Linked DNA regions of Homo sapiens. The protein of the gene in region 5 purifies or fractionates together with the protein of the main gene of each other region. This does not show direct contact. Each region holds a gene or a part of one and is shown on either strand. Other genes may lie near its edges. The genes, in order: STX16, LEMD2, GOLIM4, NDUFA12, GDPD5, TEX264 and MTARC1.

The links.
Region 1: the proteins of GDPD5 (region 5) and STX16 purify together in Homo sapiens (co-immunoprecipitation; 2 studies listed by BioGRID and IntAct, with this or other methods). This does not show direct contact.
Region 2: the proteins of GDPD5 (region 5) and LEMD2 purify together in Homo sapiens (co-immunoprecipitation; 3 studies listed by BioGRID and IntAct, with this or other methods). This does not show direct contact.
Region 3: the proteins of GDPD5 (region 5) and GOLIM4 purify together in Homo sapiens (affinity purification with mass spectrometry; 2 studies listed by BioGRID and IntAct, with this or other methods). This does not show direct contact.
Region 4: the proteins of GDPD5 (region 5) and NDUFA12 purify together in Homo sapiens (co-immunoprecipitation; 3 studies listed by BioGRID and IntAct, with this or other methods). This does not show direct contact.
Region 6: the proteins of GDPD5 (region 5) and TEX264 purify together in Homo sapiens (co-immunoprecipitation; 3 studies listed by BioGRID and IntAct, with this or other methods). This does not show direct contact.
Region 7: the proteins of GDPD5 (region 5) and MTARC1 purify together in Homo sapiens (affinity purification with mass spectrometry; 2 studies listed by BioGRID and IntAct, with this or other methods). This does not show direct contact.

The regions. Positions count from the first base shown.
Region 1 is NC_000020.11:58,667,762-58,672,028, forward strand, and holds part of STX16 (syntaxin-16), read left to right. Parts: intron 1-225; coding exon 226-366; intron 367-1,529; coding exon 1,530-1,692; intron 1,693-2,750; coding exon 2,751-2,842; intron 2,843-3,392; coding exon 3,393-3,536; intron 3,537-4,267. UniProt on the Homo sapiens protein: SNARE involved in vesicular transport from the late endosomes to the trans-Golgi network.
Region 2 is NC_000006.12:33,779,131-33,782,630, forward strand, and holds part of LEMD2 (LEM domain-containing protein 2), read right to left. Parts: intron 2,024-3,500; coding exon 1,947-2,023; intron 1,050-1,946; coding exon 970-1,049; intron 1-969. UniProt on the Homo sapiens protein: Nuclear lamina-associated inner nuclear membrane protein that is involved in nuclear structure organization, maintenance of nuclear envelope (NE) integrity and NE reformation after mitosis.
Region 3 is NC_000003.12:168,026,134-168,030,400, forward strand, and holds part of GOLIM4 (Golgi integral membrane protein 4), read right to left. Parts: intron 3,904-4,267; coding exon 3,647-3,903; intron 3,170-3,646; coding exon 3,090-3,169; coding exon of another isoform or gene 3,087-3,089; intron 1,705-3,086; coding exon 1,595-1,704; intron 1-1,594. UniProt on the Homo sapiens protein: Plays a role in endosome to Golgi protein trafficking; mediates protein transport along the late endosome-bypass pathway from the early endosome to the Golgi.
Region 4 is NC_000012.12:94,993,338-94,997,604, forward strand, and holds part of NDUFA12 (NADH dehydrogenase [ubiquinone] 1 alpha subcomplex subunit 12), read right to left. Parts: intron 921-4,267; coding exon 833-920; intron 1-832. UniProt on the Homo sapiens protein: Accessory subunit of the mitochondrial membrane respiratory chain NADH dehydrogenase (Complex I), that is believed not to be involved in catalysis. Complex I functions in the transfer of electrons from NADH to the respiratory chain.
Region 5 is NC_000011.10:75,519,221-75,523,487, forward strand, and holds part of GDPD5 (glycerophosphodiester phosphodiesterase domain-containing protein 5), read right to left. Parts: intron 2,638-4,267; exon of another isoform or gene 1-2,637. UniProt on the Homo sapiens protein: Glycerophosphodiester phosphodiesterase that promotes neurite formation and drives spinal motor neuron differentiation.
Region 6 is NC_000003.12:51,698,315-51,702,581, forward strand, and holds part of TEX264 (testis-expressed protein 264), read left to right. Parts: intron 1-1,091; coding exon 1,092-1,260; intron 1,261-4,267. UniProt on the Homo sapiens protein: Major reticulophagy (also called ER-phagy) receptor that acts independently of other candidate reticulophagy receptors to remodel subdomains of the endoplasmic reticulum into autophagosomes upon nutrient stress, which then fuse with lysosomes for endoplasmic reticulum turnover.
Region 7 is NC_000001.11:220,810,641-220,814,907, reverse strand, and holds part of MTARC1 (mitochondrial amidoxime-reducing component 1 precursor), read right to left. Parts: intron 1,617-4,267; coding exon 1,490-1,616; 3' UTR 1-1,489. UniProt on the Homo sapiens protein: Catalyzes the reduction of N-oxygenated molecules, acting as a counterpart of cytochrome P450 and flavin-containing monooxygenases in metabolic cycles.

The DNA.
Region 1 (4,267 bases), on a different chromosome or scaffold from region 5:
CTGTAGTTTTAACATTGGTAGTAACTACCTGAATTATAGGAAGAAATTGAAACCCCATGCAACAAGGAAGAATGTGATTTTCTGGTAATTTGAATTAAAAGCTGCTCACACATCAGCAAGCCAACAAGTTTGCTGAAGACCGAATTCTGTATGCTGAGTGTAGCTGATGGAGGCAGACCATAGCCTGCCTGGCATCAGTGGAGTTCTGTGACTTCATTTGCTTAGATTCAGTATGATGTTGGCCGGATTAAGCAGAAGATGAAAGAATTGGCCAGCCTTCATGACAAGCATTTAAACAGACCCACCCTGGATGACAGCAGCGAAGAGGAACATGCCATTGAGATAACTACCCAAGAGATCACTCAGGTGAGGAGTGCAAGTGAGTCCTGGGGAAACCAGCGAGCCTTCTCATGGCAATCTCAGAAACTAGAGTGTTACTCAGAATCAGTCTCCTGGAGTCATTTCCCAACCTGAAGTTCTCAGAGGGACCTCAAGAGGCCCTGAAGTCCTCCAGCTGTCAGCGTAGGTACCTGTGAGGCCTTGGAGGTATGGGGACTGTTTTTCAATTGTTGGCAGATAACTGCTGTGGACGGATTAAGTAAATATGAAATTTCAAACATTATCGAGTTCAATCATTTGATTTTAAAATGTATAACTAATATCGTATACTAGTGTTAAGAAATTTCAATGCTAAATTATAGTCCTCATAATTGAAAAAACAACTTAGTATCCTAGAAAAAATTTTTTATAAATATTAAATTTGATTAATTTTAAAATAATAGGACTAGTGTTGAAACCTCAGTGTTTACATTTTTTACTGAAGTCTCCTGGGTGCTAATTATCAGAGGAGTGTGGTGCTTTGAGAAAAGCCCTGGGGGGTTGGAATGTTGGAACCCTGGCTCTTAGCAGTTTAACAGTTACACGATTCTCATTTAATCCCTCTGACTCTAGTGTTCTCATCTGTAAAATGGGACTAATAATCATAGTACCATCCTCATAGGATGCTTGTTAGGGATTAAATGAGAGGAATGCAATAATAATATGATATATGATAATACAGGTTGAACATTCCTAATCTGAAATCCAAAATGCTCCAAAATTTGAAACTTTCTTTTGAGTGCCAATATGACACTCAAAGGAATGCTCATTGGAGCATTTTGGATTTCGAATTTTCAGATTGGGGTACTCAACTAGTAGGTATTCTGCAAATATTCCAAAATCTCCCGAAATTTGAAATCCTAAACATTGCCAATCCCAAGCATTTCGGATGAGGGATACTCAGCCTGTCTAACGTGATGATATGTGAGCAGCTGGGCACACAGCAGGCCCTACATAGCAGGAGCTGAAATCTAGTGAAATCTTTCTGTGTATATAAATGAAGCCACAGATTCCTTTTATCTGTTCACCTTTCTCTAAACCAGACTGAGTGAACAGAGCCTCTCACTTCTCACTCTGGCTTGTGATGTGGCAGTGTTAGCAGAGGGGCTTCTCTCCCAGGCTTGCCCTGAGCCTCGGGCTTGTTCTCTTAGCTCTTCCACAGGTGCCAGCGTGCCGTGCAGGCCCTGCCGAGCCGGGCCCGGGCCTGCTCCGAGCAGGAGGGGCGGCTGCTTGGGAACGTGGTGGCCTCGCTGGCGCAGGCCCTGCAGGAACTCTCCACCAGCTTCCGGCACGCACAGTCAGGCTACCTCAAACGTGAGTGCTGCCCGGGCCTAGTGAAGGGATTTTGAGTAAGAAAAGCACTTTATGTTTTCTTTTTTGCCACTATTTTTTCATTTAGTCCAGTACCTTTCATTGTTAGCTTTTGAACATGCTCATACCTTGTACAGTAAAGGGAAGCCTCCTCCCCATGTGAAACCCTGGCTTGGAATGAAGGCACAGCGTGGGGTACCGACCAAGGCTGGGGGAGGGCACCAAGATAGTTCAGCATCTCAGCAAACAAAATTTGTTTTGTGTCAAGCTGCAAGAATTTGAAAATCAACCAAGCACATTTTAAAAACCTGTTGTTTTCTGGATGTTGGGGTTTGGGAGAGCTGCTCTTCAATAGGTAAAAAGCAGTTGTTATTACTGAAAGCCACATATTTGCATAACAACCAAAGTGTTTGAGAGCACCTGAGAAAACCTCCCCAGGGTCCTTGAAACACTTCCTCTGCTGGCACCACAGGTTTCACCCAGCAGACCTTTTCTTCCCAAATAGTGCAAAGCCAGATTTCAGCTCTCTTCTCATTCTAATCACCCTGTAAACTGGGTTTTTTAAAATTGCCCTTGCAATCAATAAAGTCCCCACATACTCCAAAAAACCTAGTTCTCCCTCCCTCTGACAACTGGCATATTTGTATTTTAATTTTATTATTTCCAAAATTTGATTAGGGCCATATGGAATTCATACTAGAGATGCTTCTAGAGAGAAATACTGATTTTTTAAAATGTTTTGTAACAGCAGTTAGATTAAATATTTCTGCTTCACTTAGAGATTCTCAGATGGTTGTGTCATTTTTATCTTGGCATCAAGTGAATTGTGCACATTTACACTGTGACTTTTGTCTTGAGTAATCCCAAATGCCTGCATATTGTTGTATGTTTGTAATCCTTTACTCTCCCTCCACCCCCATTGGAGATAGGCTTCTTTAAAGCGGCTAAGAATATCTCAATTTTGACTGTTGGAGTTTACTCTAGAATTCCCCCTTTTAATGGTAGAACAATACTCAGGATGGTTTACATATTCAAGTAAAATGAATTCCTATCTGTGATAGGCATGAAGAATCGAGAGGAAAGATCCCAGCATTTTTTCGACACATCAGTACCACTAATGGATGATGGAGACGATAACACTCTTTACCATCGGGTACGTGAACGGGCTGCAAAGCTGATTGCTGTGTCTGTGCACCCCATTCTGCATCTTTCACCTCCTAGACCTCGATCTTCTGTGCAGTGTCAGTGGATTGATACAGTTGACTTGTATATTCATCAGGTTGTTTTGCAGCAGGTGGAAGAACAGCCGTACTGTTTCTTCCTTTCCAAAGGCCACAGGGAGACCTTGTAATCTGCTTTCCAGAGCCTTTGGGAAAGTGGTCAACACCCTGCCTTCTTAGGAAGAGCCCAGAGAAACAGAGGGCTATCCCGGGGGTTTTGTTTATCTGCCCTTGTGGAGTTGGCAGACGTGGGCTTCTGTCTTCCCTGCTATGGCCTCAGAGCTTTAGATCCTGCTGGTTTAGGGAATTTGAATCTTTCCTGTTAGGGAAAAATGAGTGCTTACTGTGCTTTGTAGAAATATTTTCAGAATTCATTTTCTTTAAATTATTTTCATTGTCTTTAAATTATATCTAAACAAGTATACCATAGCTTTCCTGAGAGGGAAAACAATCTATCCAACACATTGTGCACTGTCTTGCTAGGGTTTTACAGAGGACCAGTTAGTTCTGGTGGAGCAGAACACACTGATGGTGGAAGAGCGGGAACGAGAGATTCGCCAGATTGTACAGTCCATTTCTGACCTGAATGAAATATTCAGGGACTTAGGGGCGATGATTGTAGAACAGGTACGTGAGCTGGCCTTCCTCGTGAATAGGTTTTCCTGCCATACTATCTGTACCTTCTTTTTCCTGTACTCCTTTCAGGGAAAAAAATTGGAGCCAATTTTCCCAACATGTGTGTGCACCTGTCCTTTATGTGTGTGTGGGTGTGTGTGTGTGTGTGTGTGTGTGTGTGTGTGTGTATATTAATATTAATCAAATATTAAATTTGATTAATTTTAAAATAATAGGACTAGTGTTGAAACCTCAGTGTTTACATTTTTTACTGAAGTCTCCTGGGTGCTAATTATCAGAGGAGTGTGGTGCTTTGAGAAAAGCCCTGGGGGGTTGGAATGTTGGAACCCTGGCTCTTAGCAGTTTAACAGTTACATGATTCTCATTTAATCCCTCTGACTCTAGTGTTCTCATCTGTAAAATGGGACTAATAATCATAGTACCATCCTCATAGGATGCTTGTTAGGGATTAAATGAGAGGAATGCAATAATAATATGATATATGATAATACAGGTTGAACATTCCTAATCTGAAATCCAAAATGCTCCAAAATTTGAAACTTTTTTTTGAGTGCCAATATGACACTCAAAGGATATATATACATAGCAATCCTAATCAGAAAATATGAAGTTCAAAATGCTCCAGAATTCAAAACTTTTTGAGTGTTAACATGATGCCACAGGTGGAAAATCCCTACACAAGACCTCATGTGACAGGTTGCAGTCAAAACTTTGTTTTATGC
Region 2 (3,500 bases), on a different chromosome or scaffold from region 5:
CAACATGAAAAGGTGAGTGTCATCATTCTTCTGTGTTAGCAGCTTCAGTGAGCGCTGCTGCTGAGGATAAAATCCGTATTCTCCTCCGCCTTTTCTAACACAGGAAAATTGCTCAGCTACTCAGGGCAGCTTTTTTTTTTTTTTAAGCCAACAAATTTTAATCGTGCCATGCATCCAGTTATCCAGCTTGAGGTGGAGCTGCCCGAGGGGCTTCTGCTGGATGCAGTGCTGATGGAATTAGTAATTTGGGTGGATTAGAGAGGAAAAGAACAAAACTCTAGAGACGTTTTAATATCAAGAGCTATAACCTGAACAGAGACCCCCACAAACACCGAGAGTGGGAAGTGGGGAAGTGATGCTGCTCTGCCAGCAGGGGACAGGTCTCTCAAGGCTGCCTGGCTGTTGGCTGACACGCCCCTCCCCCTGGGCTGAGCCGCCAGATACAGCCTTTCAGCCTCATGAAAGGGTTTGCTACCTTTTCTAACAGTGCTCACCAGTGATAAAAATGAGGCAGAAACTGCCTGGTCAGAATAAAATCCAGTATTTCCTTATGCGATTTCCATAGTAAGTAAAACCAACATACAGAAAGAATAATTTCATCTACAAATAAAAACTAGCTCCCGAGGAGGGGAAGTGCAGAAAAATGCCTTCCCCAACAAACCATGTGGTGTTGTTGATGAATGAGAAAGGCACAGACTGAGTTACCTGAGACAGGATTTAGCTGGAACACCAGGCTAACATCCTAACACCTGGATTTTGTGTCTCATCTTGAAGCTGCTCCTTACACTGCATTCCAAATGCTTCTTGCTTTTGTTGCCCCACTTCCATCCTAACCCACATGATTCTGCTGGGAGACCCAGCCTCCAGCTTCAGACCTGAGACAGCTCTGTTGGAGCACGGGTGTTAGCTGACGAGCGAGGACAGTGGTTGCAGGCACCCATGCTGCGTCGCCACCCTGCCCACACTCACCAGATGCCCACGTCCTTGTTACTGCTCAGTATCCAGGTCAGTGCGGCTTCAAACTTGGCGGAGGAGCTGCTGGTCACATTCTGTGGGAGGGCGCGGGAGAAGGTTAGTTCGGCGTCTGGGCGGAGCAGCTGGAACATTATTCTGCTGCTGGATTAAGGAAGCCCTCTCCCGTGTCCTCCACAGCCCCAAAACCCTGTTCTGCTAAAAGCACAGCAAAGTGGCAGGAAGGAAATCGGGGGTTGATGAAAGCCAAGGAAGAGGCTATAACCAGAGGAGGTGATGCGGAAGCACAAGCAGGAAAACAGTGCGGGTCTGAGGCGGCCAAAAGAATATGATTCTCTCGAGGATGGAAGCATCAGGCCAGAGAGCTGGCAGCTCATCTTAGGGTAAAGCGAATAACAGCGTTGTGGCTGGGGGTGGGTGAGCCCAGTGGCCGGTGCAAGTGGTCTGGCCTCAGGCAAGTCCCTGACCCTCTCCAGGCCTCAGTTTCTTCATCTGTGAAATGCAAATGGAACCAGATGACCCCTAAGTTACTGGACAGGCAGGCGACCTGGAATACCAGCTCCATAGTTCTATAATCTACCATCCTGAGGCCACACAGGAAATCAGACGGCCCCTGGGCAGTCTGAATGGTAATCATACGGGGGAGAAGGGACAGCATGTTTCTCCTGAAAGCCGAAGGCAAGACGAGCAAAGTGAACCAAGGGAGAAGCAGGTAACAGGCACACCTACAGTGCAGCAGTCAGGAGTGAGCCGCCCCACTGCACATGGCGGCCTGGCTCTGGGGCAGTCACTACCATGGCTGCCTTAACTGAAGGTAGTCTAGCACAAAAAGCCATAAACCAAACCTTAACTTAAGGTAGCCTAGTACAAAAGCCACAAAGCAAACAAAAAACAAAAACCCCAACAGGGCTTGAAAGACCAATAGGAAAGCACCAGGCCCTCCCAGGAATGTATAAGCACTGAAGCCTACTTACGGCTATATATTCTTGGGCTTCCATAACAGGAATGCATTTGCTTTTTAGATTCTCTGGATTTCCACACTCAAAATTACCTAGGAGAAAAAAAACCACACATGCTCAAACACAAAGGAAAAATCACTCTGAAACAGACTAAAAAATGCAGCAAGAATCAAGCCATCAGCTCTAATAAGGAGCATGTTGCCCAGCGGCTCCTGGCTTCTGTGGGGCATCTTCACTCTGCAGCAAGATCAAAAGCCACTTAGCTTGGATCGATTCCAGATCATTAAAACCTGACCTGCAAAGCAGTGTGGCATTTTGCATTAAATGACTAAAAAGCTGCCCAATAGCAAGGTCTCTTTGCAATTGATCCCTAAAAGAATCAGACAGATAGCTTCGGAAGGTACCGGAATGGCACTATAAATAAACACAGCCTGAGAAAAAAGAAAGGCAGGGAGGCCATGGGCACCACGGGGATTCTGACTCATGACACAGGCAGGCGACCTGGAATGCCAGGTCTATTGTCTTGAGGGGCCCCTTGGAGGAAGAGGATGTCTGTGTGCTGGGCAGTGGGGCCTCAGCACAGCACGCCAAGGGGCAGCTCCCCCGAGTGGCTTTGGAGGCCTGCTCCCATAGGATGGAGCTGGCAGCCTCCCACTTAGTCCTGCCCAACCTCCCCGGTCCAGCCCAGGGGCCATCTCCCCTGGGAAGCCCTCAGCCCCTGGGGGCCTTTTGTTTGATGAAATGGCCCCAGATTTGGTGACCTGCCATAGCCCTTGGTCCTCGCTCCTGTGCTGTGGTTTGCCTGACTCCCCGAGAGCAGGGAGGGTGCAGGGCCACGCACGCATACACTATTTAACACGTGTGCGTGGCCTGACTGCCCTGACCCAGCACAGCCTGGGGGACTTCGGGTGGCCAGTGAGTGTGTTTCTGCATGCTGGGGAAGGGAGCAGCTGAAGGTCATATTTTAAAACTTTGAAACTGAACTGAAGCCTGTCGCCTTCCCCTAACACAGCCAGATCCTCCTACTTCAAAGTTGATCTTGACCCCAGGGGTCCCCTGAGACACAGGTGGCTTCTAGCATCCTCCTTTTCCCACTAGGACTCTTCCTGCCCTTGCCAGGCCTGCCTGGACCACGTAGATGGCCTCTCGATTCGGTTCCTCCTCTCCCTTTCCCAATCCAGTTGTTTTGTCAATAACACTTGAAAATGATTCTGCTTAACTGTGCTACTCAAGCTGCTGCCGCATTCACCTTCCTGGCACCTGGCTCTCAGCATGATACTCCCTTGCTCAAAGCCTCTCTGGCCCTCACTGCCTGCCAGATCAAGCTCTGGTGGCCTGGCATCCAAGGCCATCTATGGTAGGGCCCAACCAACACTTCCAAACTTCATTCTCTCATCTTCCCCTTCCTCCATGAAGGTGCTGCTTCCCACTCGAGATGTAATTTCCTGCCGCTTTGCCTTGTCCTTCCCCACATACATGTAACCAGTCTTACCTGGGCTTCAGGGCCTGGCACAGATGCTACCTCCTGTGACGCTCTCCTGACTGCTCCAGCTAAAAGGCATTGTGCCT
Region 3 (4,267 bases), on a different chromosome or scaffold from region 5:
ATCTATTATCTGCACATCCCTGGCCATGAATGTTACTCCAGTGCAAATGACACTATTCTTGGGAACGTAGAGACTACCAAATTACCACCTTCACACTAAACTCTAATTACTCCACAATCTCTTGTCATATGGATTTTCTTTAGTGCACTATCAAAAATTTGTATGGAATTACAGGAAAAATGTAACATATTCTTTTCAGAAAAAAGTACCAAATATCTTTTGCAAACGTTCATAAAATTGACTAGCTCAACTCCGACCACGTAACAGGTATGAATTAGCAGGCACAGTTGTTACGTTCAAATAAAACAGAAAGAGAGGAACAAGTGGGATTAACCATTTCTAATTAAAAGGAAGAATGGTACAAAGGCCAATGTTTCCCAGCATGTTCCCCAAAACAAACAAACAGATGACAGGAAAGTAAAGGATCATATAGTCAAGAAATCAAAGCCTACAGCAGTTCCCAAACAAGTGACTGAAATGCCCTTCCTCCCACCCCATGCACATTTGCAGGCCTTTGTACACTTGCTTTCTTGCTCTCTCCTGGATAGTCTCTTGCTCTCTCATATGTTTCTGCTCTCAAGTATTAGCCTTTTCCTGAAAATATTTCAGGACTAGGTTCCCTGGAGCATATTTTCAGAAATCTTGATGCAAGGAATGCCAGGGAAAGGTGTTCTGCCACATCTCAGTGCAAGTTAAGTGGAAAAGCTGTTTCCAGCAAAAGGGCTTTAAGTAGCTAGCAGGATGACTTTCTTGATGATTAGCAAGGACATGGGTCCTCCTTTTAATCAGGGCTCATGTGACATAGCACAGACCGACTGTTATAAACATGGTAGTTGATCTATTAGCAAGAGATGACAGGGCAGCTAAAATAAGCTGTAAAAATCATCTACGCATACACGCAGGAACAGACTCACTAAACATTTGCTTGCTTCACTTGTAGGCAGGGCCAAGGATCTAGCCCACCCAGCTGAACTAGAGGTCTCAGTCTTTTTTGGTAAACACAAACAACAATGCTGGTTATTAGATGTCTACCTACTTATATTATAAATTTTCTGTACCATTGCATACCTGAACAACTCTTCATGTCTCAGACCACATATCCTTATCCATATATTTATTAAAATGGTCACTAGACTGCTAAGAGATTACAGAGAGTCACACAAATACCTAACACTCTAGCAGACTGCTCAACATGCTCAGGAAGGGTTAGTTTCCTTTCTCTGGTCCCATCTCCAACTTCCACACTTGCCTTTTATTCCTCCTAGCTTTCAGAGTTACTACATATTTCAGTGTCTCTCAGTTTTGCTTTTCTAGGTTTTAGTTTTATTAATCTAAAAGTCATCAGAAAAAAAAAATCCTGGTTTTGTTTTTTTTTTTCCCCCAGAGCAACTTTTAAACCAGCTCATCACATACACGTACACCATGGTTTACAGTTAAAAACACTGCCCATATATAATTATGCAAGCCATTTTCCTTCTGGGCTGAGGATATAACAGAAATATCTGGGGCTGAAGGCTGGCATCAGGCAAGTTTTCAACTCTCTTTCCCACCTTATGAGTTTACATGTGTCAGGGGCAGAAGAGAGGATACTTACATCTGCCTCAGATTCTGGGTCGGCTTCTCGGGGTCCTTGTTCACGAGGCTCATGTCTATTACCTGGATCTCCTTCTGCTTCATCTTGGTGCTGGTTGTCTCTTTCATAGGCTAGCAAATCAAAGGAACTAAAATCAGCCCAAAATGAATCAAACAGGATTTCCCTTTCAACTCAAAGAAAAGCCACCAGTGGACTTTTCTACAGACTACAATACCTCCACCTCTGTTAACTCAACATAAGGCCTATGTCCTGGCTTTTCTGAATAAGGTTATGTTCTCTTCACAGACTGTGTGTCTAGAGAGATGATATGGGTCAGACACTTTTCTTCTAAAATAAATATTTTTCACAGGAGCTGTAATTTTTCCCCCATATGCAAGAAAACAACAACAATCAAAACTCTCTCAATAAAAGAAAGCCCAGTTGATTGGACACTGCTGAAGAAATCAACTAATGTTTGATAATATCAGAGGAAGTAGCTGGGCTCCAAAAGAAGAAATTGATAGTTTCAGGAAATGCAAGGAAGAACTGCCCCATCTGTGGAGCTCAGAAACAAATATAGCCCATCACATGTTTTCTGATGTCATCACAGTAATGATGATGACCGCCACAGCCCAGAAACAGCACACATTCATACTCAGACATTTACTTGCTGCTTTTTGAAAAAATATTTAGATAAAGAGAATTGTATGAGCACAAAAAGAGAAGAACAAATCACTTTTTAAAACAAGTAAGATAGAAGAGGAAAGTTTAAGTATATGGAGTGTACTAAGCCTAGAGAAAATGATGATACGGGGTAACTTACCATCAGCCTTCAAGTGCACAAAGGGGTTTACTACATAGAGAAGAGGACAAGCCATTCTCTAGTCTTACTGATATGAGAACAAAAAAGCTTAAAGTGCCACATGGCGGACATAAGGAAAACAATTTCTTGACTGTAAGAGCTGTAAGATATCACAACGGGCTATTGAGGGAGGTTGTATGTAATCACTTTCTTTCTGACTTTTTAGAAAAAGATACACATCTAAGTGTTAGTGGTGCCAGAGAGACAGTAAGTTACATTCTGGTTCTATTATAACAGTAAGCAATATTTGATAAATTACATATTAAGTGCTTATCATAAATGAAAGCTACTATTGACTTAATTTGAAAACATTTTAAGGCAATGATGTGAGGACTTCCAAGGTAAGGAGAAAATGCAGATGTTTCCCAAAGCATAATAATCCTATAATAATTTGTCAGAAATATTATAAATATTTAGTATATAAAAAGCTTAAACTACAGGGAAAATGATAGAGAGGAAACAGATTATCTTGAGCATTTTTCACTACCAGCATGTACTGTTTAAGAGGATTAAGAAAAAGACATGATTCACAAACCTCCTTTGCACTTAGGTATGCATACAGCTCATTGATGTTATATAATATTGGCTCACTGATAATATACAATGTTATCAAGTAATTTATTAAAACATTCATCATCTAGGAAGTCTCACCACCTCCTTCCTCTCCTTGGATTCCCTGGTCCTCTGCTCCCTGAACGATATCATTATCCATAGCATCATAATGAGCTTGCTGCCTACAAGAGACACAAACATGATAAATCCAGTGGGACAAAATTCAGAGGCACAGTTTGACATAGGTCATTTATCTTTAAAGACAGTAATAAGTAATGTTTCTCAACATTTTTAAGAAGCCATGAAAAATTTTTAAAAACCTCTTATGTATGCAATTAGGTATAATAAAAATTCCAGATACACTTTCAAAAGGTATCTTAAAAAGATAAAATATCTTTTAAAGATAAAATAAAATAAAGTTGGCACAAAGCCTGCAAGGCTATTTGGAGACCTAACCTACCACTTTTGAGCAGAAAAAAAATATTATTTTTAAAATTAAATATTTGGTATTTAATTTTCAAGTAGCTGTCCTGCCTTGGCTATTTGAGCAATATGAGCCCCTTAACTTCATGAATCACAAATGCACAAAACTGTTTTTAATTTGCGTATGAAAACTGGAGCAGGGGCTGTCTTCGTTCATTAAGGAAGGGGAAGGCTACCGGAGCTGCTCCTGGTGCTGCGGCCGGCCCTCCTCAAGCTCAGCCTGCCTCTGCAGGGCCATCTCTCTTGCCACCTGCTGCTGCTGCTGTTCCTGCTGCCGTAGTAAGTGCCCCTGCAGCCTCTGCTGGTGCAAAGCTTCCTGGTGTTCCCGCAGCTGCTGGGCCTCCTCCACCTGCTGCACTGCCAGTCTCTGCTGTTCCAACTGTTCCTCATAGGGTGATTGGAATTTGATCATTGGCTTGGCTGAAGGGTACACCTAGGGTGAAAAAGAGTTGGTGCAGAGCAAGAGGGGTTAGCTCCTCTGGGTTTTCTCTTCATTTGTTTCTCCTGACAAACTCAGGAGGCAGAGCTGGTTTATTAACGACTATTTGTCAGGTGAACTGTGATTATACATGAAGTCCAAAAACTCCTATTTCCCAACTTTCTCTGAATCACCCTTGGCTTTTTTAGCAGCTGATATTTCCAACTACTGCTATTAAGGCAGATTTTCAATGTGCTCCCTTCTCAAATGGAACAGAAGGGACAACCGAAGATAACAGTTTCAAACTGTAAAATTTATGTTCACAAGGCTCTGATATAAACAAGTAGTTGGTAACTTTGGTAACTTCACATTAACTGGG
Region 4 (4,267 bases), on a different chromosome or scaffold from region 5:
AATTAGGCCGAGTGCAGTGGCTCATGCCTGTAATCCCAGCACTTTGAGAGGCCGAGGCGGGTGGATCACCTGAGGTCAGGAGTTCAAGACCAGCCTGGCCAAAACGGTGAAACCCCATCTCTACTAACAATACAAAAATTAGCCAGGCGTGGTAGCATGAGCCTGTAGTCCCAGCTACTCGGGAGGCTGAGGCAGGAGAACTGCTTGAACCTGGCAGTCAGAGGTTGCAGTGAGCCAAGATCATGCCACTGCACTCTAGCTTGGGCAACAGAGTGAGACTCTGTCTCAAAAAAAAAAAAAAAAAAAAAAAAAAAAAGCCAGGCACGGTGGCTCATGCCTGTAATCCCAGCACTTTGGGAGGCCGAGGTGGATGGATCACCTGAGGTCAGGAGTTCGAGACCAGCCTGGCCAACACAGTGAAAACCTGTCTGTACTAAAAATACAAAATTAGCCAGGCGTGGTGGCTCACACCTGTAGTCCCAGCTACTCGGGAGGCTAAGACAGGAGAATCGCTTGAACCTAGGAGGTGGAGGTTGCAGTGAGCCAAGTTTGTACCACTGCACTCCAGCCTGGGCGACAGAATGAGACTCTGTCTCAAAAAAGAAACAAACAAACAAATTTAAAAACAAAACAAAAATTATCCGGGTGAGATGGCATGGGCCTGTAGTCCCAGCTACTAGGGAGGCTGATGTGGGAGGATCACTTGAGCCTGGGAGGTCAAAGCTGACATGAGTCATGATCATGTCACTGCACTCCAGCCTGGGTGACAGAGTGAGACCCTGTCTCAAAAAAGAAAAAAAAGAAAGACAAATAAAATGTTGTCTTAGCTTACCATTCAGGAGGCACCATGCTTCCATCCACATCCCAGAATGTGTTTTTGCCATTCATTTCAGTAGTATATACAACCCATCGGTGACGGCCTGGGTGGGAAGATGAACATTTAAAAAGAAAAACTTTTTTTTTTAAAGCATAGATGCATAATATCAAAGAAGACAACCTTTTTATTAAGAAAAGACTTTTTGTGATCTTATATAAGAGAGCTATTGGAGGAATAACACCCTGGGTGAATTCGTGAAGGTAAGCTCCAGGAGGTGTGTGGCAAACTTTAAGCAGCAACCCGCAGCAAGGACTGAGATGATTCACTGCTGTGGGTGGGGCTCAGGCCTTTCCCACAGGGGAGAATCCTTGCTTCCCTGCCAGCTCCCCACAGAGGGAGTAGCAGACAGGATAGGAAAGTGTGTTCCCAGATGTACAGGGTATTCAGAAAAGAAGGTGTTCCTCTTGAGACTGGGGAAAAAACACATTTGTAGCAATCATACTTGAATTCTATGTCTCCACATAAGTATTTTTTTAAAACCACCCTAGATCCTTTTGGAAATTTGTGAATTATATACAATAAGCAAACATTAGAAATGATGGTTAGGTACATAGGACAGCTCATGTCATCAAAATAATATGGCTGCACTCCTCATTTAGGAAATTTCTGTGCACTAGTTGAGGGGCCTAACCACTACTTATTTACACAATTGGGTCCTTAAACTGAGCAAAGACTTGGGCTTTGTCACTTATTATCAGTGGTTATTAGGCAAATTTTATGAGCCTCAGTTTCTTTATCTAGTAAAAGTGGATGACTATACCTACATCTTAGAGTTGCTGTGAAAATTAAACATCACATACATTCACCTAGTTCAGCATCAGCCATATAAGCACATAATAAGTATTAATTCCTTCTACCCCTTCCTTACTGCTCTTACCTGCCAATAGGGAACACTGAATCCATTCATTCCTATGATGGACTTTAAACCAATAAGTAAAAGGTAATCTGCATTTCATTTACAGGGTTTTCCCAGGTAAACATATAATCAACAAAAATTGACTAACGGTACTTAAACATGACCTCATCTCTTTTTAAAAATACAGATTTCAATCAACATTTACTGCTTCATTTAGAGAAATAAATCTTAAGAATAGCTAACTAAAAGTAAACTATAATCCAGTGAGGCAGGGGAATGTGCAGGCAGATGGAGGAGACCTTGGGAAAGGTTTCATAAGTCAAGCCCTGACAATACAGTTAGGCTATAATGATGGAAGTGGGCCCTAACAATCTCTCTCTCTCTCTGTCTGTCTCTCTCTCTGTATTTCTTGAAATGTTAAATGCCTATTCTCAGACTCAGAAATTCAACTTTATTTATTTATTTATTTATTTATTGGAGACGGAGTCTCGCTCTGTCGCCTAGGCTGGAGTGCAATGGCGCGGCCTCGGCTCACTGCCTGCAACCTCCCCTTCCTGGGTTCAAGCGATTCTCCTGCCTCAGCCTCCCGAGTAGCTGGGACCATAGGCATGTGCCACCATGCCTGGCTAATTTTTGTATTTTTAGTAGAGATCAGGCCAGAAATTTATTTAAACACATGAATGTAGTTACAAGCAGGTTTACAGTAGCATCATTCCTAATAGCAAAAAGTCAAAAGCAATCTATGTGTCTATCGATAGTAACAGGATTGAAGAAATAATGGTTCTTCCATACACTGGAATGTTGTGTTGCTATTTTTAAAAATGCTGTGCATTTTTTTTTTTTAATAAACACAACTGGCTGGGCACGGTGGCTCACTTCTTAATCCCAGGACTCTGGAAGGCTGAGGCAGGGGGATCACTTGAGCTCAGGAGTTCGAGACCATCCTGGGCAACATAGTGAAACCTTGTCCCTACAAAAAATACAAAAATTAGCTGGGCATGGTGGCACATGCCTGTAGTCCCAGCTACTCTCAAGGCTGAGGTGAGAGGATCACTTGAGCACGGGAGGCAGAGGTTGCAGTGAGCCGAGATCACACCACTGCATTTCAGGTGGGGCAACAGAGAGACCCTGTCTCGAAATAAAAGAAAAGAATTTTAAATATACATAAAGACTAAACTATTGAAAGAGTTGCAAAATTATAAGGGGAGGGAGCTTTCATACACCAAATATATATAAATACATACATATATAGGTACACACACACACACACACACACACACACACACACGAGATGGGGGTCTCTATGTTGCCCAGGCTGGTCTTGAACTGCTGGCCTCAACTGATCCTCCCACCTTAGCCTCCCAAAGCATTGGGATTACAGGCATGAGCCACCATGCCAGGCCCTAATTTTTTTTTAATTAGCAAAAATAAGAATATTTCCAATGCAAGGGAGAACAGAAGAAAGGAGGCTGGCTGCAGTGGCTCACACCTGTAATCCCAGCACTTTGGGAGGCTGAGGCGGGTGGATCACGAGGTCAGGAGTTCAAGACCAGCCTGACCAACATAGAGAAACCCCATCTCTACTAAAAATACAAAAAATTAGCTGGGCATGATGGCGCATGCCTGTAATCCCAGCTACTCAGGAGGCTGAGGCAGGAGAATCACTTGAACCTGGGAGGTGGAGGTTGCAGCGAGCCAAGATCGTGCCATGGCACTCCAGCCTGGGCAACAAGAGCAAAACTCTGTCTCAAAAAAAAAAAAAAAATTAAAGAAAGGAAAGAATGTAATATTATAGTTTGTAACAATACAGTGAGAAGTAGAAAGAATAATTACCCCAGGTTCTGCCATTAATTACATGATTAAGTCTCTTTGGTAAAGATACTTCCTTGGGCCTCAGTTTCTTCATCTATAAAACAATAGTTTTTAGACAATCTCTTAAAATCTATTCTAGGTCTAAAATTCTGTGATTTATGTATTAAAAATATCATAACTAGGTGTGACAGTATGTGCCTGTAATTCCAGCTCCTCAGGAGGCTAAGGCGGGAGGATTGCTTGAGCTCAGGAGTTCAAGACCAGCCCAGGTAAAATAGTGAGACCTCATCACACTCACACATACACACACACACGCACACACACGCACACACATAGAGTACATAAGATGTTTACTTCTTATAGACCAACATGCATCCAAAGCAACCACATTCCTGAGAAATATTCCTAACTATTCAATGACTTACCTTCTTCATCTGTGAAATGGGGGCGGAGGAGCACAGAAGTGCTTATCTCAAGGAGATGTTGAAGATTAAGGTAGATAACGTATGTTTTTGTTTAGCACAGCACCTAGCACATGGTAATCACTCAATAAATGCCAGGCAATTATTTTTTCACGTTATACATTGTTCCCCTGGATGAAGACTAATTGCTTTTTCCTCTTTGATACTTTTCATCTCAATCAAGAGAGTATTTTTTTATTATTATAAAAGTAACAAATGCACATGGGAGAAAATTCAACAATTCAAGAAGGTACAGGTTGG
Region 5 (4,267 bases):
GAGAGGAGCTACTCCTCTCTCAGCTCATTCAGTGCTGATCTCACAGAGGTCCAAAGTCAGCAACATGGGCACCACCTCCAGGAAGGCTTCCCTGACTCCCCTCCCCACCCAGCGCCGGGCAACCCCAGGCCCCTGGCCTTCCCTGTCACATTCTGTGTTGTCACTGCTTCTGTGTCCTCCCAACCCTACCAGGCTGTTCATTCATTCATTCCACGGAGCAGCTGCCCTTTGCCTGGGATTCATTCCAAACGCCTTTCCTGAGCACCTGTTTTCTCTAAGATCCTCTGTGAGGTGCTGGAGATACAGATCATAACAGCTAACCTGCACTGAGTGCTCATTATGTGCTGGGCATTTTTTTGAGTGCTTTACACGTATAATTCATTTCACCCTCACAACTCTATGATGAAGATGCTGTAATTATCCCCATTTTACATATGGGGAAACTAAAGCCCAAAGAGGTTAAATCACTTGCCCAAGTCATTTAGCCCTACCCTGTGCCACCAGCCACAGATACTGATGGGACCGGCCCCTGCCTCAGGAGCCTGCTTCTCACAATTTGGAAGTTTTGCATCTGTGTGTTTCCTTGTCTAATGCTGTTTCCCCCACAGACCAGAATCTCCAACCATGTTACATTTCGGTTGGATGTGTGTGTGAGCAGCACCAAATAAATGCTGCTTCCCTTTAAGGAAGAACTCACACTCTCTGCCCAGCATCTGCTAGCTGGACGCCAGACGGCTTCTCCCACCTGGGTCATTTCTTCTGCGTAGGCCTGAGAAGAAAACCCAAGTCCCCAGATATCCCAGTCCTGCTCCCTCCCCTGAACCTAGCTCGGGACCCTTCCAGGCCAACAGCACCTGCTTACACACCACTGTTCACAGGGAAGGTGGTGGGAACTGTGAATCTGCAAACCCCAGCTAAGTCCCCCTAAGGGAAGGCCTCCCTGCCATCTGGCACGCCCTCCCTCCAGCCATCACTCACTGGACTCTTCCATCAGCTTCTTACTGAGTTGCTCGTTCACGAAGCCATCGAGGGGATGGGCAAGAAGACTCATGCTGATGGAGTACCCACCTGTGTGCCAGGCCTGGACAGGCACCCCACTTCCTTCATCTCATTTAATAACAGTTATTATCAGCCCCAATGTACAGGGAAAAAACAGAGGTGCAAAAGTTGAGCAAGTTGTCCATGGGGCAGCTTGCACTGCCTCCCCTGGCCCGGAGGGTGTGGCTCTGTGCCAGGCACACTGCTAGGCACTCAGAGGGAGGGGAGGATTCGGTGGGGGCACATAGAATCTAGTTTTGACAAGCCAGCAAGGGAAGCAGACCAAGCAGAACCCCAATCCACAGACCACAGTCAGTGTGCAGAGGGCCATGAATCAGCAGCAGAGGAGGCTTGGATCCCACCTGCATGGGAGGAGTACTGGAAGCTTATAGCAGGCAGCATCTTTGGACCTGGTTGAACTCCTTACTGCTCTTTCCCATGGTCACAGCAGGAGAAAGGGTAAGCCTTGGCCTACAAAGCTCTGGTGCCCAGTGTGTGTTTGCCACCACCCCAAAGGGGGCAAAGGGAGGAGAAGCTGGCTGCCCTGCCAGTGACCCCGCTGTGGCCCGGCCAGCCTGCCTCCAGTCCCGCCAACTTGGCCTGGCCTGGCCCAGCCAGTTCCCAATCACAGGGTCTCCTCTGCCAGCTAATGACCATGCTGCCTGCAGCTCAGGCCACCACCCTCCTTTGGGCGAGGCAGCTACCCACACAGCCTGCTGGCCCAGACAGTGGCCAGGCCAAAAATCACAGCTGCCCGTCATACCACATCCTCTGGCCCTGGTGCTGTGGTCTCCTCCTCCTCCCTCCAGGGTCACGAAAGACGATGTAGAAAGCTGGAGCTACAGGGGAGCTCAGAACCCACCCTGCTCCCCATAGACATGGACACACGGGACCCCAGAGAGGGGCCGACTCACCCCAGGTCACACAGACAACCAGCCAGCCTGTGCACGGCCTAGGGCCCAGGTCCTTCCTGGGCCCCATGCTCAGTCCAACACTGCCCTTCCTTAGCCTTGAGAAAAAACCTTGTCCAGGCTTTTTACACACAAAGTATGCTTTCAAGGTACTTGGGTGGAGGTGAGGAGACAGGACATCTTCTAAGCACAGATTTACAATTCAAACAGATGCAGCTTGGCTCCCTGCTCCCTACCTTTGAGCTGTGTGACCTCGGGCAAGATCAGGTACCTCTCTGAGCCCCAGTTTCTAGGGGATAACAGTAGCTACCTCAGGGAGTTTGTGTGAACAAGAGTGTCTATAAAACATTTAGCACATTGTCTGGCTCATAGTAAGTACTCAAGATATCAGCTGTTGTTGATATCATCACTGTAGTATTGTGTGGATACATTTTACAAACTGCAAAATGTTATGGATAGTAGGTATTATTTTTTACTATTACTGCTGAATGTTAAAGATTCAGAGGGGGCATGACCAGAGGGTTGGGTAATCCAGGAATGTTTCTGAGGGAATTTATGACCTCAGTCAGGTCTTGACAGGTGGGGAGGTAAGTGGAGCAGAGGCAGGGATGGCGGTTCTGATGGGAGGAACCACAAACAAAGGGGCTGTGATGGGGCCACATGTGGTGTGTTTAGGAGACAGTGCAGAGCAATGAGCCAGAAGGCCGGGCAGAGGCTAAGGTGACCAAGGACCTGAATGCCATAACTAGGGCCTGGTCTTCATCTTACAGGCCGTAAGGAGCCACAGAGGCTTCTAAATGGGGGCTCCATTAAGCTTTCTGAAATGTGAGTTCTGTCTAACATTCAAGGCCCTCTCCTATATGGGCATTCACCCCTCACTAACCCCACCAAGCCATCCTCCTCGCCCCAAGTTCTCCCTACCTCTCGGCTTACCACGCTATCCCACCTGCCCCGCCACTAGCCCACTAGCTCACACTCATGATGAGGCACCCCCTTGTTGAGTGCCTAAAGTGCCGTGTGTTTCACACATGGGACCTCAAGATGATCCTTAACAGCCTTGAGAAGTGGACATCACAACCGTCATTTCACAAAGGGGGAAATGGAGGCCTGATGGGATCATGTGTCTTTCCCATGCTCTCAGTGAGGCGGTGGCACAGCCAGGATTCCTTCTTGGAGGGATGTCAGGACCCCCCGTCTTTGCAGCAAGTTTCCTCTAGCTCCTGCCCAGACAGCCACCTCCCTGACAAAGCCTTCCTGGTTACTCCAGTCCTCAAGGGCCTCCCCTCCACCCCTTTCTGCCCTGTACCCTCCCCCTTACTCCTCCCCGTCACCACCTCTCTGGAATCAGAGGCCCACTTGATCCTAGCTCAGCTAGCTTGGTTCCCAGTGTTGCCTGTGGGACCATCTGGCCCCCAACAGAAGAGACAGGACATCATCAACCCCAGCTCTCTCCTGTTGGGGGCCAGATGACACTTTCTCCCTGTCCTATCCTGCCTGCCCCCCCATATCCAAGACTGCTAACAGCACAGACAGGAGCCCCCACCTCCTCTGGTAGGGTTCAGAAGCTCACTGAACATAGAGCTATTTCCCTGAGCCTGCCCCCAGCTGAGGGGAGTATTAATTATTCACTGCACCTTGGTGCCTAGGGAGGTCAGACAATGGGCCCGAGGGAATGGACACCAGCTCCAGGCACCACAGCCCTGCCAGCAGGAAGCCAAGGGAGGGGGTAAGAATCCAGAGCCCCTTGCCGGTGTCCCCAAGCAGACTGATTCTAGAGGCTATGAGACTAGGGGAGTGTGACCCACACAGCAGCCTGAGCTGAGCAAATTCAGGTCTCTGAGCCTGCCCTGCAACCATATCCTGCGTTCTAATCGAAGACAAGTCTGAGAATTTCCCCAGACTTCCTGGTCAAACTTCAAGCTTCCTTTTCTTCATAGGGATGGAAACGGATATTTGGCCAGGCACTGCATCTTTGTAGCTCATTTAATCCTCGCAACAACCTGCTAAAGGAGGTATTCTAATTTTATAGGCTCAGAGGGATGAAGTGATTTGCTCAGTGCCACTCAGCTAGTGGGAGGCACAGTAGACTCACGCCCACCTGGTCTGTCTGATTTACCACTATCTGGGATTCACCAGTTACTGTGGCTCGAGGCTGCCGCTTAGCCCGTCTGGGTAACTTCCAGGGCACCTGGTATGCAGCTGGCACTCAAACAGTTCTACAAGCAAACTCAAAGGCCCTGGGGAAGTGGTTTTACCTCTCTGAGCTTCAGTTGCCCACACGAGACTGGGCCATTAATAACCTCCCCAGTCTTGGCAAG
Region 6 (4,267 bases), on a different chromosome or scaffold from region 5:
TGCTAAGTGGAAGGCTCATTTCAGAGCTCATGGTGAGAGCGGGGCGAATGCTATAAATAGTCGTGTTGTGAAGATTGGCGGGTGAGCAGTGACAGGGCAGGGGCCTTGCAGTCATCATAGTGGGTATTTGTGCTCCTTCGCAGGAAAGGTGGCGGGGCAGGCTCTGAGTAAGAGGCAACTTGACCCCTGTTCTGGCTGTCCCTGCCTGCCTCAGGGTGGCTCTGGCATGTCTGTGCCCCTCCATACTCATTGGGGGATGGGGAGCACTGGATTCTGTGTCTAGGCAGAGGGAGGTGGAGTGCCTTTTGGAACTTGGGGCCCAAAAGGTGGTACATCAGCCCACTGGGTAATGTCCTGTGCTAGATCTACTTGTCCTACCTGACCTTCCAGTCCAGGGTCTCCCTCTTCCCCATCAGCTAAAACCTGAGTTTACATGTGAGGAGGTATGGGAACCATACCTGATAGTCTCAGAGGTTGACATAGCTCTAAACTAGCAGGGGAATGAATGGGAGTGGAAGTGGTGTTTAGCTGGCCTTGATCCTTGTTCAGGGTCTATAGTAGCATGTCTGCAAGAGCAGGGGCTGGAGGCCTAAGGACTGGGGGTGCTGGTCTTCTGATATCTGTGGGTCAGTCAGCGTTGTCCAGGGTGGAGAGGAGGTCAGGGCCAGGGGGTCCTGGGATGGAAAGTCTGGTAGGTGAGACCTTGGCTTAGGCACATGGGGTCCCTATCCTGGGGTGGTCCAGGGGTGCCAAGCTTCATGGCTCTGTGAGACCAGTGCCTTCTGGAACAGCTTTTTGGTCTCAGATGTACACATAGGAGAGCAGTGCCAGGCTCCTGGGTTCTTTTACCACCTGCCCTAGGGTGTCGTCCTGGGTCTTCAGACTATTATTGCACTCTGGACTATGGGGCCCTGCTGTTAGGGTGATCTATGTGTGCCTCCCTCAGCAGGGCTTTGGAACTTGGAAGAGGTTGAGAGGCAGAGCCAGCCCCTGGGACAGAATAGGTAATAGACAGTTCTGGGGGTCACCCAGGGACAAGTGAGTCAGGGGCCCTGTAGGGCTCATTCTACCTTTTGCCACTCTCTGACTAGGAGCGGAAGCTGTGTGCCTATCCTCGGCTGGAGATCTACCAGGAAGACCAGATCCATTTCATGTGCCCACTGGCACGGCAGGGAGACTTCTATGTGCCTGAGATGAAGGAGACAGAGTGGAAATGGCGGGGGCTTGTGGAGGCCATTGACACCCAGGTGGATGGCACAGGTACAGAAGGTGGGGTATGAGGATGGGGCCCTCCTGGAGCTCCTCTCTTCTGGACTCCAGGGGCTTGGTTGAGGAGGCTCCTCCCTCTCTGGGTTGGCACTGTGGGTGTCAGGCTATGCTTGGCAGAGGGAGGAAGGAGACCCACCTACCTGAGGACCCACATGTGGAGTTGCCTGTTCCCAGACACATGGATCTACATAGATGTGGATTCACACACATTACCTCCTGGCAACACAGATACAAAGACCCTGCCTGGATTCCCTCCAGATGCAGCAGGAGTACCCTTGGAAACAAAGATCACAGACAGCTCGATGTTCATGGGAGGGGGCTGAGGCTGCTCAGGAAAGGAGTCCCTTGGGTGGGGCTCAGCAGGAAGTAAGATTGGCATAGATCTGGAAGGTAAGGAGGGGAGCAAAGTGTTCTCTTGTCCCTCAGTACGGGCCCCACCCAGAGCCAGCTGCTTTCTCCCTGCCAGGGAACAACCAGGGAGCATGCAGAGGGGAGCCAGGAGATCAGTCACCTGTGCCTTTCTCCAGGGCCAGCCCACACTCCTGCTGGCAGCCTCAAGGCCCCAGGTCCAGGCTGGAAGGCTGCTTGCCTGCCCACCCCTCTGCAATGATCTGTGACCCCGGGCTGTCTCAGGCACAAGGGGGTCTGCTGGGTTACATCCCAGATGGTCCCAGGGGGCCTTATCCTTGGCCAACCTGGTGGAGTTTGTGACTTCTAGGAGTGGTACAGGGCTGTGGGGAGAGGAACTGTCCCTCCTCTCCTCCTTCTTTAGCAGATGCTCTGCCCATCCAGTCTTCAACAGCCAAGGTCACCCTAGGGAGACGTGTCAGCTAGGGCTGGGTAGGAGGGTATTGGGAGCAGTCTCTACTCCCTAGGGGCCTGTGTCCAACACAGTTAACTTCATCTGCCACTTAATTACCTCCATGGGGTACAGCTCCCTTCTGCCTGGTAGTGCCCGGCAGACACTCTTCAGTGCCCCTACTGTGGGCACAGGACATGGCACAAGGTCAGCAGGCCCAGGCAGCCTCCAGGGCAGGAAGACAGAGTGCCTTCACTTTACTGTGACCTCCCTCTGCTGCCTGCCTCCCCCTCCTTGACCCACCCACCCAGCTTCCTTCCCTCCCAAACACTGCCTGTCAGGGTCATTGAAGGACTGCTTGGCACCCACTACAGCTGGCTGTAGTGGCAGCTCCCACATTCCCCAGCTCCTCAGCCTGTTTTCCTCCCCTCCAGCCCGCCCACCCACTCCCTGGTGTTGGGGCCAAGGGGTCTGCCCACCTCTCACAGGGCCTGTCCTGACACCCCAGCGGGACTCGGTGTTTGCCCACCAGGTGCATGCCACTGACACAGCAGTTGGTGGTGGGTGCATGCAGGATGTCTGACTGCCCAAGGCTTGGCCTGTCCCTGCCCGCCTCCCTGCTGTGGCCCTAGCTTAGGCCGGGAGGTGAAAGGGGGTGATTAGCTGCCTTGTGCCTGTTATTACATTGATGTATTATTTAGCTTCAGAGAGGCGATGAATATTTGATCGTCTTGCACTGGCTGTGGGCAGAGCGAGAGGGAGGGATTTGGGTGAAGGGGGTGGGCTTCAAGTCCCCTGCCCCAGTAGTCGTGGGGATTTAGGTAGGGCCCTGCCTTGCCTGGTATCTTCTGCCCAGGGATGCAGGCATGGGACTCTGGGACCTCCTCCTGTGTAGATCTTGGTGGGGGTATAGGGATGCTACTTCCCCGTATTGCATTCCTTTTTTTTTTTTCTTCTGCGGCAAGGTCTGGCTCTATCGCCCAGGCTGGAGTGGTGCAGTGGCAAGATCTCGGCTCACTGTAACCTTTCCCTCCCAGGCTTAAGCTGTCCTCCCACCTCAGCCTCCTGAGTAGCTGTGACAAGAGGCGTGTACCACCATGCTTGGCTAGTTTTTGTATTTTTTATAGAGATGGTGTTTCGCCATATTGCCCAGGCTGGCCTTGAACTTGTTAGCTCAAGTGATCCTGCCTCAGCCTCCCAAAGTGTTGGGATTCTAGGGATGAGCCACCATGCCCAGCTGGATTCCTTTTTTTTGTTTGTTTGTTTTTAAAGACAGTTTTCCTTTTTTGCCCAGGCTGGAGTGAAATGGCATGATCTTGGCTCACTGCAACCTCCACCTCGTGGGTTCAAGCGATTCTCCTGCCTCAGCTTCCTGAGTAGCTGGGATTACAGGTGCCTGCCACCATGCCCGGCTAATTTTTGTATTTTTAGTAGAGATGGGGTTTTGCCATGTTGGCCAGGCTGGTCTGGAACTCCTGACCTCATGTGATCCACCTGCCTCAGCTTCCCAAAGTGCTGGGATTACAGGCGTGAGCCACCGTGCCTGGCCTCCAGCTGAATTCCTTTGCTTGAAGTGTATATATGTCTCCAGGGGCTGTCTTCATTTCAGCAGGCTGTCCTGGCCTGAAGGAGGCACCCCTAGGCTCCTTCCTCTGAACATTCCTAGCCTAGGAGCTGGGTGGTAGGAGGTAGCATGCTGGGAAGCAGGCACATTCCTATACCTGGGGTCCCAAGAGAGCCATTGGGTGGGTGGGCAGACAGAACATACAGTTTAATAGGGCCAGGGAGAAACTGTCTCCCTCCTTTGCTCTTTTCAGGCCTGCGGTCCCTGGGGCACTGATCATTATTTAAGGAGCAGTGAGGGCCTGGCATCCTGTCCCCTGGTCAGAAGAAACTACCCAAAACTTAAAGCTCCCCCAGCTCCCTGACCACCTCATTCACAGGCTTCTGTCCTGGGAGCCACACCTGGGGCCTCAGCAAGAGGAGGGCCCTGGGCCAGCAGCCTGGGCTTCTAGGGCTCACCTCACCTCTGCCAGTAGCGCCCAGAGGGCATATTCTGGGGGCTGAGTGGGTGGTGGGGGTAGGGAGAGACCCCAAATTCCCCCCTCTCCTAATTCTCCCACCCCCAACCTAGGCCCCATTTGAGGCTCAAGGAAAGCCCCAGGCTGAGTCCAGGCGCCAAGCAGACCCCAGCTGCAC
Region 7 (4,267 bases), on a different chromosome or scaffold from region 5:
TAAAAAGCATGTTGACTTGATAGTCCTTCAAACATGGGTGCTTGCCTGGGAGGCTGTGGGTGAGGAGGTCCATTATGCAGAAGACCCAGCTGTGGTCAGGTGTCAGAATTACTGGCTTTGCCCATTCACCTCAGTCAGCTTTCTTTTTTTTTCCTGTTTCTTTTTTAGAGATAGGGTCTCACTCTATCACTCAGGCTGGAGTGTAGTGGTGCAATCATAACTCACTGCAGCCTCAATCTCCCGCTCCTGGGCTCAACCAATCCTTCTACCTCATCCTCCCGAGTAGCCATAGCCAGGACTGCAGGCACACACCACCACACCGAGTGCATTTTAAAAACATTTTGTAGCGACAGGATCCCATTATATTTTCTGGGCTGGTCTCAAACTCCTGGGCTCAAGCCATTCTCCCACCTTGGCCTCCCAAAGTGCTGGAATTACAGGCATGAGCCCCTGTGCCCAGCCTCAGTCAGCTTTCACAGTCTAACTTTGTGCCAAGAAGTTAGTAAGATCTGAAACTAGTCAAAGTAGCTTCCATTTATTCACAGTTTTAAAAACATTTTTCAAGTTTAGTCAACTTCCCAATATAATCAAAGGACAAAATGGCAATAAAAAATATACTTCATCAGATCTTAGAGTTATACAATCAGTTAAAAAATAGATATTGGGTTTTAAACAACTGACATATGCTTTCCTTTTCCCCCTTTAAAGGTTTTCAGTAGTCTATCTGAAATCACTGAATCACTTTTCTTCTCCTCCACAGAATTCAGAACTTTTTCACCCGGAACTGGAGAAGGAGCACTCCGTCATTAGCTGAGGGGAATGGCAAGGATCCAGGGGTCCTCCATGACTACACAACCATCCTCCTGAGCACCTTTAGGAAATCCAATGCTGTCTGAGAAGCAGCAGGGCCAGATCCAGATCTATGGAAAATTAATATCTGCAGTGCTTCCTGAAGGTCACCTCAGTCTTTATGCCATTTCAAAAGCTAGCCCGGGGCTTGAGAAGAAAAGGGAAGTGGCATTCCAGCCATATTTGGGGTGCAATTTAATTTTCATTGCGTACCTCATGAACAGGGGCAATAACACATTCTAGGATATTCTTCCAGCCCACCCACTCTTCCTCTTTCTCTTCTTCTCTTTCTCTAACGAGTGGTAGTGACAGGATGCAAGTCTGCGCTCTTGGTAGATAAACGGAGAAGCAGGAGAAAGAACTATTCCATAATCAGTTAAACGGGGAGTTTTCAGAATCCTGTCTTGTCATTTAAGTGACTTACTGAAGTCCTACTAAGTTATTGAGACTATATTTCTTTACTTTTTGCACTGGGACATTGAAGCATTGAGACACCAGAAGTCCAAAAGACGAAAAATGTGAAAATCACAAATTTAAAGAAAATGTAGAGGTCTCAGTTCTGAAACACCATGCTTCAAGTGTTGTCATTTTTGAGAACATTTTTAAAAGGCATCTAATATTCCAGGACATACGGTTCCCATTACTGGCCCAGCAGGTACACAGGGTCTCCCACTTTGATGGTCCCTGGGTTTTCCAGCACAAAATACTGCCCAAAGAGTGGTGATTTTCCATATAACTTTCGTTCTGAAGGGTCACACTGGCGATAACTGCAATAGGAAAAGATCATGATGAGTCACAGCCAAGCGGATGCAAGAGCTCAACCAGCACGTGGCTTCCATCCCACACAGGGCCTCCGCACGCACAGCTCGAGAGGGCACCATCCCGTCAAAGCTCAACAGAACAGCGCCTCCTGGAGTGGGGCAGTGAACAGCCTGCCCAGCAAACAACGACAGAAGCATAAGCAATGGCCACATCCCCACATCTTTTCTCTACCTTCATGTTCCCCCTTTCGGCATTAAGACGTTAGATACTTGGCCAGGTGTGGTGGCTCATGCCTGTAATCCCAGCACTTTGGGAGGCCGAGGCTGGCAGATCACAACCAGGATGGAGATCAAGACCATCCTGACTAACACGGTGAAACCTCATCTCTACTAAAAATACAAAAAATTAGCCAGGAGTGGTGGCAGGTGCCTGTAGTCCCAGCTACTCGGGAGGCTGAGGTGGGAGAATGGCATCAACTTGGGAGGCGGAGCTTGCAGTGAGCGGAGATTGTGCCACTGCGCTCCAGCCTGGGCAATGGAGCAAGACTCCGTCTCAAAAAAAAAAAAAATTAGATACTCAATGTGTCTAGACATACTTTATCATCTTCCTTTGCCCTAGGCATCTTTCCTCCTGTCTCCTCCATGTCTGTCACCTGAACCACCATCCTAGCCGTCACTTGGGCTGGGAGCCCATCCTTTACACCACTGTCCTCTCTTCCCACAGCCTGTCCGCAGCTGCCGAGTTCCAAGGTTCTTCCTGTACAACATCATTTGACTTGGCTTGCTTTTCCTCATTCCGACTGTCACGATCTTGCTTCCAGCATGCTCAGACTATCATAATAACTTCTTAACCAACCTCTTTTCCTCATTCTCTACCTGTTTTCAATTCATTGTTGACACTGCACTATATCACTGTTTTAATTGTGTTCTGGTCTTATCATTCCTAGGCTCACAAACCTTCCGTGGCTCTCCAGTGCCTAAAGAATAACATTCCAACTATTCAGCCTGGTATGTAGGGCTCTACCTGGCCCCAGCCTGCTTTTTCAGACCTGTTGCCATCTGCTCCTTACCTGTGCCTCTGCAGCTCTCTGCTGGATTTCACCTTGCTTTGCATTGTACTGACTCGGTAAGTCCTCTGTGATTCCTGTGGGATGCTCCTCCTCCAGGTCCCCATGCTTTAGAATTGTACCTGCCTCAAGGCCCAAATCAAACACCACATCTCCCAGGAAGGAAGCCCAGGTTCCCCCAGCTACGAGTAATTCCCCCTCCTCAATTCTCTTTGCCCCTCCAATACTCACACATCTTGTCCTGTAATGTCAGGGCACAAGTTTGTCTGTTCTACAAGGCAGAGTCCCTGGAGAACAGGAACTGTGATTAATGCCCTTGTACTGCTCACGCCCAATGCCGGGCCTCCTACATCACCTGTGACCCACCATTGTTTGCTGGCTGGATTAGTATGCTCATGAGTAAAACCGTCTGTCAGAGGCAGTATAAATATGAATATTTTTGTCCAGCAGAAAATTAAAGAAGACGCAGGGAGAGGGTACATGAGCAGATGTGTGGGACTCACATGGCAAGATTCCCCCACCTTCCCCACTGGGAAGAAGTTAACCTTCAGTTTTTTATTTAATCTAACCCTAATTTTACATCATTTTTATATTTAAAACATTTTAGATAAATCATTCATTTTATTCTGCCTTGCTTTAAAAAAAAGTGAAAAAGTGACTGCAACAACTTGGTTCTAATGTTGTTCTTCAAATCAGAAATTGTTAAGGAGAAAACAGAGAGTCAAATCTAGAACCACCTTCTGGAGACCTGCAGCTCCTTCCCCAGACTGTAAACATCCTGTAGGCAGCACTGTGTCCACTTTGTTCTCTGTTGCATTCTCATGGCCTGGAACAGTGCCTCACACATACACTGTAACCACTCAAAAATAATGTTGGTTGAACAATGAATGAACAAATGAATGGATGAATGAAAATAACAAGCTGCTGATGCAGGCTTCCCTGCCTTGCCAAGAGTATTTCCTCTCTCTGTAATCAGGTTTCTGCAATGCCCTTGGACCTGACAAACCAGGCATCTCTCCTAGCCTGGCTCTCCTCTTTCAGCATGCAACATTCATGACATTCTGAGATCTATCTGTCAGAGGGTGACCTCTTCAGGAACAGGGGACACATCAGCTGCTTGTATGGGTGTTTCCGTTGCTGCCAAGCTCTGCAGTCTAAGAGTCCAGACTCTCATTATCTTGGGGAGAAATTGAGAGTTGGAGTTCTGCGCATCACACATGGATAGTTTATAAGGAACTTTACACATGTTCTCTTTTTTAATCCTTACAACCTGCTTATGTGGGAATTTGCCTTTTCTTCATTTTACAGTTAAGTCTCAGGGGGAGTAACAGACTTGCCTGAGATCACAGATCTAAAGGATCCAGCTGGGGCCAGAGCCCAGGCCTGGCTGACTTCAGAGTCTAGTGGACTCTTCCCACCCAGGATGTAACCCTGGTCGTCGACATCCTCCTGAGTACACCCACAGGCCTGAGAAGAACCGAGGGGTCTCACAATTTAGTCACCTACACCAATTTCTAGCCACTTACATTTTTCACCTATCCCTTCCTGCCAACCAAGCACAGACACACTCACTCCCCCACCAGGTAATGA